Regions from separate parts of the Homo sapiens genome. Here all the other regions are reported to be linked to region 2. Evidence: microRNA targets listed by miRTarBase, many of them from high-throughput screens and not tested one by one. Region 2 holds a microRNA gene; each other region holds the end of a gene's coding sequence.

The links. Region 2 holds the annotated microRNA hsa-miR-373-5p (ACUCAAAAUGGGGGCGCUUUCC, at 2,165-2,186, opposite strand). A microRNA usually pairs through its seed, bases 2 to 8, with sites in the 3' UTR of a target mRNA and lowers its output. Matches are read on the target gene's strand: a 7mer-m8 pairs with bases 2 to 8, a 7mer-A1 pairs with bases 2 to 7 and ends in A, and an 8mer does both.
Region 1: miRTarBase lists LPP as a target of hsa-miR-373-5p. The part of its 3' UTR that is shown has no 7-base or 8-base seed match.
Region 3: the mRNA of SCYL3 is a reported target of hsa-miR-373-5p. The part of its 3' UTR that is shown has no 7-base or 8-base seed match.
Region 4: the mRNA of TMEM184C is a reported target of hsa-miR-373-5p. Seed matches in the 3' UTR shown: 8mer at 2,232-2,239.

What each region holds. Positions count from the first base shown.
Region 1 is chr3:188,874,245-188,877,244 of GRCh38, reverse strand. LPP (LIM domain containing preferred translocation partner in lipoma) reads right to left here. Exons shown (of 12, transcript NM_001375462.1): 12 at 1-2,894. The coding sequence ends at 2,766. Among named protein-coding and RNA genes, the nearest start is that of TPRG1-AS1, 72 kb to the left of the region's middle.
Region 2 is chr19:53,787,413-53,790,895 of GRCh38, reverse strand. MIR373 (microRNA 373) reads right to left here and starts at 2,191; the gene lies at 2,123-2,191. MIR371A (microRNA 371a) reads right to left here and starts at 3,221; the gene lies at 3,155-3,221. It overlaps MIR371B (microRNA 371b), which reads left to right and starts at 3,154; the gene lies at 3,154-3,219. MIR372 (microRNA 372) reads right to left here and starts at 3,006; the gene lies at 2,940-3,006. It also overlaps LOC124904767.
Region 3 is chr1:169,851,016-169,854,015 of GRCh38, forward strand. It overlaps SCYL3 (SCY1 like pseudokinase 3), which reads right to left. Exons shown (of 13, transcript NM_020423.7): 13 at 1-2,757. The coding sequence ends at 2,698. FIRRM (FIGNL1 interacting regulator of recombination and mitosis) reads left to right here. Exons shown (of 25, transcript NM_001320047.2): 24 at 802-921; 25 at 1,775-3,000. The coding sequence ends at 1,972. Among named protein-coding and RNA genes, the nearest start is that of SCYL3, 41 kb to the right of the region's middle.
Region 4 is chr4:147,633,976-147,636,975 of GRCh38, reverse strand. It overlaps TMEM184C (transmembrane protein 184C), which reads right to left. Exons shown (of 10, transcript NM_018241.3): 10 at 255-2,807. The coding sequence ends at 2,542. Among named protein-coding and RNA genes, the nearest start is that of TMEM184C, 18 kb to the right of the region's middle.

The DNA.
Region 1 (3,000 bases), not on the chromosome of region 2:
TACAATCTTTTTCTCTCTGTTGCAGGCAAAATTTCATGCAACTAAAAAAGAGTGACTTGGCATTGTTTAAATCAAATGATTAATAGAAAAGACAGTAATATAAATCATATATTTAAGAAACCCTAGAATAAAATATTGTAGGATCCTTTCCTTATTATACCTTGTGAAAGAAAAAAAAAACTCTAAATCTAAATGTTTCTACATATGTATGAGTGCACATTCATTATTATAAAAGAATAAGTCTATCTTAAAAAGAGATTTACTTTAAAAACCTTTGGTAAAGATACTCTGAGGTTATGTTATAAGAATGCATAATAAAGATTGTAAGCAAGCAGTATTCTGCTGACGATGCCACAGGGATGGGTCTGTGACAGCATTTTCTTACAGCTTTTCCTCTTGACATGTAAACATTCAGTTACACAAGGATTTAAATGTAATAAGCAAGTAGAATGTTACTGCATTTTATAGTATAAATATTCAATAAATTCTTCTTCTTTTGGCAAAATTAATAATAATATGACCACTTTAAGAGATACAATCTATCCCTCAATAAATTGGACTCTCTGCTTTGTCCTAAAGAGAATTTCTCCGAAAGTATTACATAAAAAGTTACTAAGTCAAAATTCAAGCCGATTACATTATCAGCCCTATTGTCAAATAGTCAGTGCTACTTGAGGTCATCAGCATGGTCTGGCTTCAATTTGGAAGACAGGAATTCAGAGACACAGTTGACATTGCCTCCCAAAACTAACATGCTGCCCCTAAGTGAATCTCATCATATTTCACATTATGAGAAATATACGATCAAAGATAAGAGAACTAGGGTAAGAAAAAGACAGTGGTCAAAGGAAGCTCTTAAAAGCTATAATTTTGGTGGTTCTAACACAAAACCGTTTAGTGACAAAAGCAAATGAGCCATACATTAAGGATGAGCTATAGTGACCATCGGCTTAAGAATTTCTAGTCACAAAAAAAGAATCACTTTTATGATCATTCCTATTCAAGTAAAATAAATTTAATTGGAATTCCTGAGGAATAGTTTGCAATTCAAAACACGTATCCATAATTTTTTATTTCAGTTCTGATGTTAAAATTAAAAACTAGAAAAAAAACTAGAAATCTGAACATCACTTCACAATAATGAAAAAGATATCTGTGGAATAAGGAAACGGTACATTGGAGGATGTAATTATACTTGTTATATTTGGTGTCTTAAACTGGGTATTAGGTATATAGGAATTCATTATATTATTATTTATACCTTTTTGTAGACTTAAAATACTCCATAATTTAAAAGTATATACTTGTGGGAGATTTGAAGAAAGATTTAAGAAATCTCAGTCCAAAATCCTTAGTTTACAAAATGGCAACTTGCCATGACTAAGCTAGGTGTCTCTCCTTAAGTGAAACATGTTCGAACTTAATAAGTATGGCTTGGCAGTTGGCAAGCAAGTGTTTCACTGGCTAATAAAAGTTTGAATAAAGATTCTAGGCAGAGATTCTGCATATTTTTAGCTCATAAAGACAATTTTTGTTTCAGTGATTGTCTTTGAAAGTGTGGTGTAAATGTCACATTGATGATATGAAAATGTCTCCTGCAATATGTAATTTCAGTTGCAGAAGGATTATGAGAATAATGAAACTGTGGTTTCAGAATCTTTTCAAGCTTTCTACTCTTTTGAAAGTAAACCAAACAAAACTGCACAGTTTTATTTTGTATGCTCTGATTTGCAATTGTCAGGCAAAATGGACCTGGTAATAAAAAAGAAAAAGAAGAGAATTTGAACGGTTTTTTCACAGCCTTCATCCTCTAGAGAAAAAGGCAATTTTGATAGTTGTGTTGGATATTAGAATAAACATGACAATATTTTTAAGATGAGAAGTGGGACAGTATTGAAAATGTTATCTTCTAGAAGAAATCAAGTTTGTCTGTATTACAATGTTCAGGTAGTGCGGAAAAGAAAAATCTTAAGGTAATATTGTGGGACAATAATGTTTTTTTAAACATAACCCCAAAATGCCTTTTCTAGCATATCCCACCTGTAATTTCTTTAGAAAAATATTGAAGCTTGGTTGTCTGTCACTACTTATTAGCTATGGGCCGATAACTCTTTTCCAATTAGCCTTGATCACTGGTCACTATAGATTCTGAATTCTGATGGTTGCAAATTAAATTTGGGCTTGTTCTAACTTATGTAATTTACAGCTTAAATTCTTTACAGCCTAACAAAAAAAAATTGTGCATTTCCCTCCCCAAGGACGTGAGTAGTATAAAGCAAGAGAAGAATATCCTCTTCAATACATGGGAAAAGAATGGCTACTCTTTACAGTCACAGGCAAAACGGAAATGATAGGATGGAGATTTCAAGCCTAAAAGCACCTGTGAGTTGGCAGACTCACCCAGGAAAAACTATGTGACAGCAAATACCACACTAAGAAAAGCCATTCAACCAGATGAAAAGTGAGACAAACATAGGGATTAAAAGTTACAGGAATGCAGAAGTGAATGGGATGGAGCATAATCTGTGCAAAAATGTGGAAGTCCTTGGGAACAAAGGCCCATCAAGATCCTACATGATTCAATGTGAAATGTGTATTTGGTAACAACTTTTAAAAAAAATCTCATAATTTATGTGTTTCTAAGGCAAGGTTAATAGCAGATGAAGAACAGAGACTATCGCGTAGTTTGATGGCCTTTACTCTAGTATTTCTTATCTTTTTCTTGTGTTCGTTCTTCTCAGTGCCGGCTGAACAGGTGACTGAATCTAAAGGTCAGTGCTCGCCTTGGCGGTCAACACCCTGATGCGGGCAGAGTTGCAGGTCTTGCAGAGGATGTGCCCATCCAAGGGGTAGCAGCCTTGGTTATCTCCTTCAGACAGGAGACCACCGCAATCCTAGAACAGTAAAGACAGATGGAAACGACATAAGTAAAAACGTTAAGTACACATGTGGAGAACATCATGATTGAGCTTTCTATTCAAGGCCTCCATAATGTGGCCA
Region 2 (3,483 bases):
TGTAATCTCAGAATTTTGGGAGGCCAAGGTGGGTGGATCACTTGAGGTCAGGAGTTTAGTGAGACCAGCCCGGCCAACATGGGGAAACGCCATCTGTACTAAAAATCCAAAAAAAATTAGCTGGGCATGGTGGTGGGTGCCTATAATACCAGCTACTCGGGAGGCTGAGGCAAAAGAATCGCTTGAACCTGGGAGGTGGAAGTTGCAGTGAGCCAAGATCATGCCATTGTACTCCAGTCTGGCGACAGAGCGAGACTCCATCTCTTTAAAAAAAAAAAAAAACAAAAAAAAAAACACAAAAACAAAAAACCCTCAACTAACAATCCCCAAGCTGCCCGTAGAAAAGATGACAGGAGGCCCAGGTAGGTCAAATATAAAGAGAAGTCTTACTGGTTACCGTGGCGGACTCCCCACCAGTGGTGGCGGTATTGGGACAGAGGCTACAACTGCTTTATGAATTGCGGGTACAAATAGCAAAACAAAACTCCCTTGAATTTGAGATCTTACTTCAGTTCAGATACTGTGGAGTGGGCAAAGCAGCCGCAAGGGTTTGGAACACCTACAGGGGATAGGAAAACTTACAGGGGATAGTGGCCAGCAGACCCGGAAACCAGTGATAGGGCAAACAGCAACTAAGAACCTACTGAAGGCCCCACGTGGTGGCTCACGCCTATAATCCCAGCACTTTGGGAGGCCGAGGTGGGTGGATCACCTGGGGTCAGGAGTTCCAGAGCAGCCTGGCCAACGTGGAGAAATCCCATCTCTAAAAAATGCAAAAAATTAGCCAGGCGTGGTGGCTTATGCCTGTAATCCCAGCTACTTGGGAGGCGGGGGCAGGAGAATCGCTTAAGCTGGCAGAGGTTGCAGTGAACCAAGATTGCGCCATTGCGCTCCAACCTGAGCGAGAGCACGAGACCATCTGAAGCAAAAAAACCTTCCAAATATGAACTTAGGCCTGGCACTGTGGCTCACACCCATCATCCCAGGGAGGCCACCCAGGGCAAGACAGTAAAGCCCCATCTCTACTAAAGGAGGGATGTTTGATTCCCCCTAAGTTTCAGACCAAGCTGGCCAATGTATGAGACCCCAATTTCTACTAAACATTAGTGGAGCATGGCGGGGACACTCCTGTGGTGCCAGCTACTAAGGGTGGGGTGAGGGGGGGCTTATATGGGAAGATCTTTTGATCTAGGGAGCTCAGGCCTGCAGGGAGCTGTGATGGTGCCACCACACTTCAGCCTGGGTGGTTTTTATTTTTTGAGACAGTTATCGCTGTCACCCAGGCTGGAGTGCAGTGGCACAACCTCGGCTGGCTGCAAGCTCCACCTCCCGGGTTCATGCCCTTTCTGCCTCAGCCTGTGACTACAGGCACCCACCGCCATGCCCGGCTAATGTTTTTGTATTTTTTAGTAGAGATGTGGTTTCACCGTGTGAGCCAGGATGGTCTTGATCTGACCTCATGATCAGCCTGCGTCGGCCTCGGCAGTGCTGCCACTGTGCCCGGCCTTACTTTTTAAACTTGTTTGAAGTTTAAAGAGCAGAACTCTCAAAGAGCATAACTCTAAGTTCTAGCAGGGGTAGAAGGGAAGCACAAAATACTGACAAGTATTTTTAGGCAATGTACTTGGGTCATAGAAGAAGGTTCAGTAACGCCAGACATGAGGCTCATGCCTGTAATCCCAGCACTTGTGGGTGGCAGAGGAACCCAATAGACCAGAAACACATGATGTTGTTCACATTTTATTAAAAAAAAAAGTTAGGAAAAGTGAGACTGTGGCATTGTCCGTGTAGCAGGGTGGAAGCACTCCAGCCCATGCTCTGGCCAAACCCACTTCAAGCCTTACATGCATGCTGCCTACCAAATTCAGGAACAGGACCCCAAATTCCCTTTAAGGCCAACCAGATTCCCCCGACACCCCATCAAGCTTTTCCTGCCCTGTTCATCTGCAGGTGAACCCCGTATCCTGCCCACCCCAGAATATGCCAATTTTTATTATCTAAAATGGAGCATACAGACTGGTGCCCCGCAGAGAAGCCCGGGAACTCCAGGTCATAGCTGAAGCTGCAGTCAGACCCGCAGGCTCCCTTGAAGCAGGATGGTTCGTGATGCCCTACTCAAACAGGGACACCCCAAAATCGAAGCACTTCCCAGTACAGACAAAAAGGAAAGCGCCCCCATTTTGAGTATCCCAGTATGAGCTCCTCGCGAGGATCTGCCATCACTGTGACTTTCTTGCCTACAAGAGGTTGGCCTCCAATCATCCAAGCACATGTTAAATGTCAGCAATAAACTTGCTTGCTATGGGGGAAGAGGAAAGTTACATATCAATTATAACACCAACAGCAAAAAGCATTCCTTTCTTTGTGCATACAGCCCCTTGGTCACAGCTGCTGTTTTTTTTTTTTTTTTTCTTTGAGAATGAGTCTTGCTCTGTCGCCCAGGCTGGAGTGCGGTGGCGCGATCTCGGCTCACTGCAAACTCCGCCTCCCGGGTTCACGCCATTCTCCTGCCTCAGCCTCCCAAGTAGCTGGGACTACAGGCGCCCGCCACCACGCCCGGCTCATTTTTTGTATTTTTAGTAGAGACGGGGTTTCACCGTGTTAGCCAGGATGGTCTCGATCTCCTGACCTCGTGATCCGCCTGCCTCGGCCTCCCAACGTGCTGGGATTACAGGTGTGAGCCGCCGCGCCCGGCGCAGGCGCACAGCCGCCCTCTGAACCTTCTCTTCCTTTCACCATCTAACCCAGATTCCCTTAGTTGTGTCAGGTGAGAGCCCAGGAGGCCCCCTTCCCTTCCCCAGGTTTTCCGGAGCCATTACAGCCAGACGCTGTAAGGGACCTGTACCCAAGACAGTTTCCGGCTGGGAATCGAAACCACAGGCTCTTTAGTTCCTGCAGAAGACCGAGCTCCACGGCATCCGTTGATATGGGCGTCACCGGTGACGCTCAAATGTCGCAGCACTTTCCACTTGGACATCAGAATAGTGCTCCACATTTGAGGCCCACAGGGTGAGCAGCTCCATCTGCAAGAGCCCCGGCCAAGAAATTTATATCACGAGGAAACGGCCATAGGCAGGGTCTAGGGCCATCCTGCTACCCGCCCCCTCACCCAATCAAAATGGTATCTTCTCCGCAGGTTGAGTCTTCTCAAGCGGTAACACTCAAAAGATGGCGGCACTTTCACCAGAGAGCAGAAAGTGCCCCCACAGTTTGAGTGCCACAGGCTGAGGGGATGCGGCAAGGCGGCGATCGCAAGTGGAAGCACTTACCCATCAGAAGAGGCTTTTAAGCAAGGAGGTGGAGAGTAGCCCTTGATGAGCTGTTGAAGGTCTACAAAGCACGAATTTAACGACCCTTTCTTAAAAAGTAAAAAACAAGGCTTTCCACGTATAGATATTCAAAGCACTCCCCCGCCCATAGCCTCCAGATGCAAGCCATGAGGACTGAGTACAATGCAAGTAGGAAGGAACACGTGTGAGGGAC
Region 3 (3,000 bases), not on the chromosome of region 2:
GCCTCCCAAGCCAGGGTAAGCTCAGGGCCCTTTTTTTTTTTTTTTTTTTTTTTTTTTTGGCATGGCTTTTTTATTCTCTTTGCAGCCAAGACCTGTTTTTACAATTAAAACCAAAATTTTGAATCACAAGGTTCCTATGTCTATGCATACTTGGGAACTTAGTGTGAGGAAATAATAGTTAATTGAAATACTAGTGGAACTGTTAAACCACAAATTTAGACTACCAGGAGAAACTGAATTATTTGATATATTACATGTAATGATGCACGTTATATATTTTACATATATTACATATATATTTTTTTAGGTGAAATGGGCCCACTTGACTCACTGAACTTTATTTTTTAGACAGAGTCTCGCTCTGTCGCCCAGATTGGAGTGTGGTGGTGTGATCATAGCTCGCTATAACCTCAAACTCCTGGGCTCAAGCATTCCTCCCACCAAAGTCCTGGGATTAGAGGCATGAGCCACCACACTTGGCCTACTTATATTACATCTAAGCTGGATTTTAAGTACATGTGTATACACTGCTGTTGCCAGTTTCTTAGCTTATACAGTAAAGGTTAGCAGACTATCATTTTTTCCTGCAAAGACAACTCTATAACTAACTATTTTGTAAGGAAGAACACAGTAGAGTGATTTAATCCAGATTATACTAAGAGTATTTATAGATCAGTCCATGTGACTTCCAGAATTTGCCTAGTATGGTTGAACACTCAGCACTTAAATTATGTGGCCATTTCATATCTAGTAGAGTGCTAACATGTTGCTATTTGCTTGGTTTTTCATGGTCCCTGGCAGACTGGGTTTGTAGATGAAACTGAAGCTGCCAAAGTGGAACGTGTGAAACAGGAAAAAGGTATTTTCTGGGAACCCTTTGCTAATGTGACTGTAGAAGAAGCAAAGAGGTCATCTTTACAGGTATGGGCTGATTTCAATAGGGGCCAAACTTTAACAAGGCAAATTCTGCCCTTTTTACTTACTGACGAAACAAACCAGTGTGGTTTCCAGCCTTATGCTGAATTTCAAATCAAATAGATCTAGACATGTAAAATTCTGTTTTATGGTAGTTGCTTTTAAAATTAAGAAGTGGGACTACACCATATCAAATATATTCTTTCAGTATGTTTGAATTATTGGTAGTAACCTTTAAGGGAAGTTACATATTGTACCAGTGATGCTATAAATGCAGTCTTTACTGAACCACAGAAGAAAATGAAAGAAACTTACTCCTAAATGTTTAGTTTGATTCCTTGCCTTATTAATCAAATGAGTCTCCTAATAATTTTTGGCAGTAACTGAAGATCACATCTACTTATTAAAAGGCAGAATTTGACACCAATAAGGATATTCAAAATATTGTTTTGAGCACTATTAGTATAGTAATTAGTATAGTAGTAATTCATGAAGAACAACATTCTGATAAGTTTTAGTCAAACTCTCATAAAAAGAAAATACATTTATGAACTTGTTTATAAGACATGTAAGCTTGGACTATGCAGCACTTCTCATTGGGAGCCCTTTGGGACAGGATACTTGTTGTATACCACATACAAACTAAGACACTGGTAGTAGCACTCTGAATTGCTATGATAAACCAAAATGCCTTTACATATTTTTCTAGATGACTGTGTAGGGGTTTTGGGGTGCATCCTCCTACCCTTGTGATCCAATGACTAGAATAAAATTTGCATGTAAGCTTTACTCCAGTCCAAAAGGAAGGTTCTTTATATTTAGAATGGATATTGTGATATTACTTATGTTTTTTTTCCAGCCTTATGCAAAAAGAGCTCGTCAGGAGTTCCCCTGGGAAGAAGAGTACAGGTCAGCGCTGCATACAATAGCAGGGGCTTTGGAAGCAACTGAGTCACTACTCCAAAAGGGTCCTGCTCCAGCCTGGCTTTCAATGGAAATGGAGGCGCTCCAAGAAAGGATGGATAAGCTAAAACGTTACATACATACTCTAGGGTGAAACTTATCACTAGGCAGAACTGGGTTTGATGCTTTGTCAACTGAAAATACTTATGTCTGTACATTTTCTAACAGATATAAAACAAATTTTGTAAAGTTGAATCTAGTGAAAATAATCTTTATTTGACATTTAGAGAACAGGATTGTGGGGAATATTCTTATTAAGAACTTTGGTACAATGTACTACATGTGGAACAGTCAGGAACTGCCTAGGTCCACAAAGAACCATTTACTCAGATAGTCTAACTGTAAACAAATAAATAAGCTGCCTAAGGAAACCTCAGCAATTTAAAATCATTTATATAATTTATAGCTAAAATTTTTTAAAGTTGTATTTCATAATAGAGCTTACTCTTATGTTAAAGAATGGCACAAAATTAAGCTAACCAGCTTGAATTACATTTTCTTTACTTCCAGAATTGTCCTGGAAAAAGCAGTAAATTCGACCTCTCCTCAGCTACTTGCTCTTCATAGAAACTGGCCTCAGTCAAATGCACAAAGGCTCTTCCTCCTGGAAACCAGTACTGTGAGCCTCACCACCCAGGGCTTTTAGCCAGCACTCACAGTCAGTCTCCTACTTCAGTTGGCACAGACTGGATAATGAGCTCCTGGGATGGGAAAAGCAGGCCACTTTGGGGTTTTCTTGTCCCAAAGCCTGCTTTTGAGGTATTGATTTTTTTTAAAAAAAGGGAATCCTTTTTCCTAAAGTTTAACTCACATCTATTGTCACCAGTTATTATCTTCCCAGTTCAGCTCCCCTTCTTCTTCCCAGCCTTCAGCCTCTCCCTGCAACAAAATAAAGCACACCAAGAACCCACTGAAACAAATCATATGCAAAAATCATACGCAAATTTGAAAAAGCAGGAATTTAAAATTTATCTTTTGATGCCAGAAACACTACCTCGTACTAAGTAAAATAACTTAGAGCTCTAACAGAAAGTTGAAAAGTAGGATTACAAAACCATGGCACTGGAAAATAGCTTTTCAAAAACCATAAAATCCAGTAAAAATCAGTGTGGATGACACCAA
Region 4 (3,000 bases), not on the chromosome of region 2:
CTTTTATTCCACACCATCACAACATTTGTTGTCTTTTGTTTTTTTTGATAACAGCTAGCCTAACTGGTGAGAGGTAGTACTTCGAGTGGTTTTTATATGCATTTCCTTGATGATTAATTATGTTGAGCACCCTTTTATATACCTGTTGGCCATCTGTGTGTCGTCTTCGGAGAAATGTCTTTTCAGGTCTTGCCCATTTTTAAAATTGAGTTGTATGAATTCTTTATAAATTTTGGATACTAACCCTTTTCCATATATATGCCTTACAAATATTTTTTACTCAATCTGTAGGCTACTGTTTCATTTTGTTGACTGTTTCTTTTACTGTCAGAAGCTTTTTGGTTTGATGTAGTCACATTTGTTTTTGTTTTTGTTGACTGAGCTTTTGGTGTGATATCCAAAAAATCATTGCCAAGGGTCAGTGTCCAGGAACTTTTCTCCTATGTTCTCTTCTATAGTTTCTGGTCTTACATTTAGGTCTTTTATCCATTTTGAATTGATTGTTGTGTAGGTCTAAGATAAGGGTCTGATTTCATTGTTTTGCATGTGGAAGTGCAGTTTTCCCAGCATCTTCATTAAGAACACTTAATGAAGACTGTTCTTTCCCCGATGTGTCTTCTTGGTGTCTTTGTCAAAAATTAGTTGACTGTGTATGTTTGGATTTATATCTGGACTCTTTCTTCTGTCCCACTGGCCTGTGTATGTGTTTTTATACCAGTACCATACTGTCTTGATTACTATAGTTTTGTAGTATAATTTATAATTAGGAAATGTGATGTCTCCAACATTTTTTCCTCAGTATTCTTTTGCCTATTCAGGGTCTTTTATCGTTACATATGAATTTTAGGATTTTTTTCTGTTTGTGTAAATAATGCCATTGGAATTTTGATAGGATTGCATTGATTCTGAATTGCTTTGGGTAGTGTGACCATTTTAACAGTATTATTCTGATCCATGAGCACGGGATACCTTTCCATTTATTTGTGTCTTTCTTTCATCAGTGTTTCATAGTTTTCAGTGTACATACAGATCTTTTACTGCCTTGGTGTTAAATTTATTCCTAAGTAAGTATTTTTTTTATGCTATCATAAATGGCATCTTAATTTTTCAGTTAGGTCATTATTTTCATTATTTATGTATAAAAATGCTAATGCTTTTTGTATGTTGATTTTGTATTCTGCAACTTTACTGAATTCACTTGAGTTCTAACAAACAGATTTTTTTTGTGTGTGTATCTTTGGGGTTTTTACATAGAGCCCAGTTTTAGTTTTAATAGAAATGTTTATAATAGTGGATGGAATAAAGACTTTGTATGATTACTGTGAACCACTATCTCTCTCTATATATATAGATAGATATGAATGAGTATGTGTATAAATACATAAAGCAAAGGCTTTGAGAAACAATACTCATCTTTGCTTTCTGTAACATACTATGGCACTTTCTGTTTTATTTTCATTATAAAATGTCAAACATGACCCAGTGGGGTTGTGATTAGCAATTAGAGAAACCCCATCCTAGGTAATAAAAAGTTTTCCCAAATAGCACCTATATGTCTTTCTGACTGTGGTTTAATGAGTAATTAAGACCATTCAGCCAAGATTTACATTTGCTGCCACCTTTAATAGCACTGATGAAAAGTAGAACTTTTTTTTTTGACTTCTTTTTCACTGTGCCTCTAATCAAGAAATTTTTGTTAAAATATTAAGGGTTTTTAATGTTTAAAGAATGAGACATAAAAAAGTTGCAGAAAATAAATGATAAATTCTTATTTATTGAAAGACATTCAGTTGAGGAATAGGGATATAACTGTTTGTTAGGTAAGCTTATATGGCACATGATTAAGTTCCACTAATTCGTATTTCTGCATTATGCTTTCTGATAATTCCGGAGCATTATACTCATGCAGCAGTGGTAGGAAGTACTGATGTTTTTTTAAAAAATGTCCATTCTTGGCCAGGCGCAGTGGCTCACGCCTGTAATTCCAGCACTTTGGGAGGCCGAGGTCGGCGGATCACGAGGTCAGATCAAGACCATCCTGGCTAACATGGTGAGACCCTGTCTCTACTGAAAAAAAAAAAATTAGCTGGGCATGGTGGCAGGTGCCTGTAGTCCCAGCTACTTGGGAGGCTGAGGCAGGAGAATGGCATGAACTTGGGAGGCAGAGCTTGCAGTGACCCGAGATTGCGCCACTGCACTCCAGCCTGGGTGACAGAGCAAGACTCTGTCTGTCTCAAAAAAAAAAAAGTCCATCCTCTTGATAAAGCAGTGTAACATCAGGAAGATTTAGTTGGGGTCATTGTCTACCATTTGAGTATGCGATACCCTAATGTTAAGAAATCAAGTCTAAGTCTAGGAAATTTAGACCAATTATTTTTGATATACAAAACTTACATATATAAATGCAGTAGTTGTACCTGGCTTTCAGCTATTTTTGTGTTGACATTTTCCATCATTTATGGTCTGTCCCAAGCACAAAATCCATGGGATACCAGGTAATGATATAATGTAGTAGTTGCACAGTTTGCTTTTCCATACTGTTCAGGAATCCACGGATTTATCTGAAGGTTCTTTTTTCTCTCCTATAGTATCACTAAGGATTTCATCAGATATCTTAGCTGTGGTAGGTGTAGTCTGGGGAGTCACAGTGTGTCCAAACCCTTGGTAGTGACCCATGGGTGAAGGTGGCATAGAAGAAGCAATGGAAATTGCATCTTGTGATGATGATGATAATAAACTTGTATGTTCATTTTGATCTTGATCCTCGGGAAACAATTTTTTCCTGGGATGTCCCCTGACTGTCCGTCCTTTAATATAAAGTTTTCTGTTAGTCAAAAGTTATTTTTACCATTATAAACTTACCATTCTAAAAATAAGCTCCCCACTTCCCCCTCTCCCACTCCCCAAAGTTGATGAGCCTGCACTGTGGTACTGCTTTAAAGTCTTTTTTCATCTCTAAATAGATAATAAATTGCCCTAGTAGGAGAAATTCAATATCCT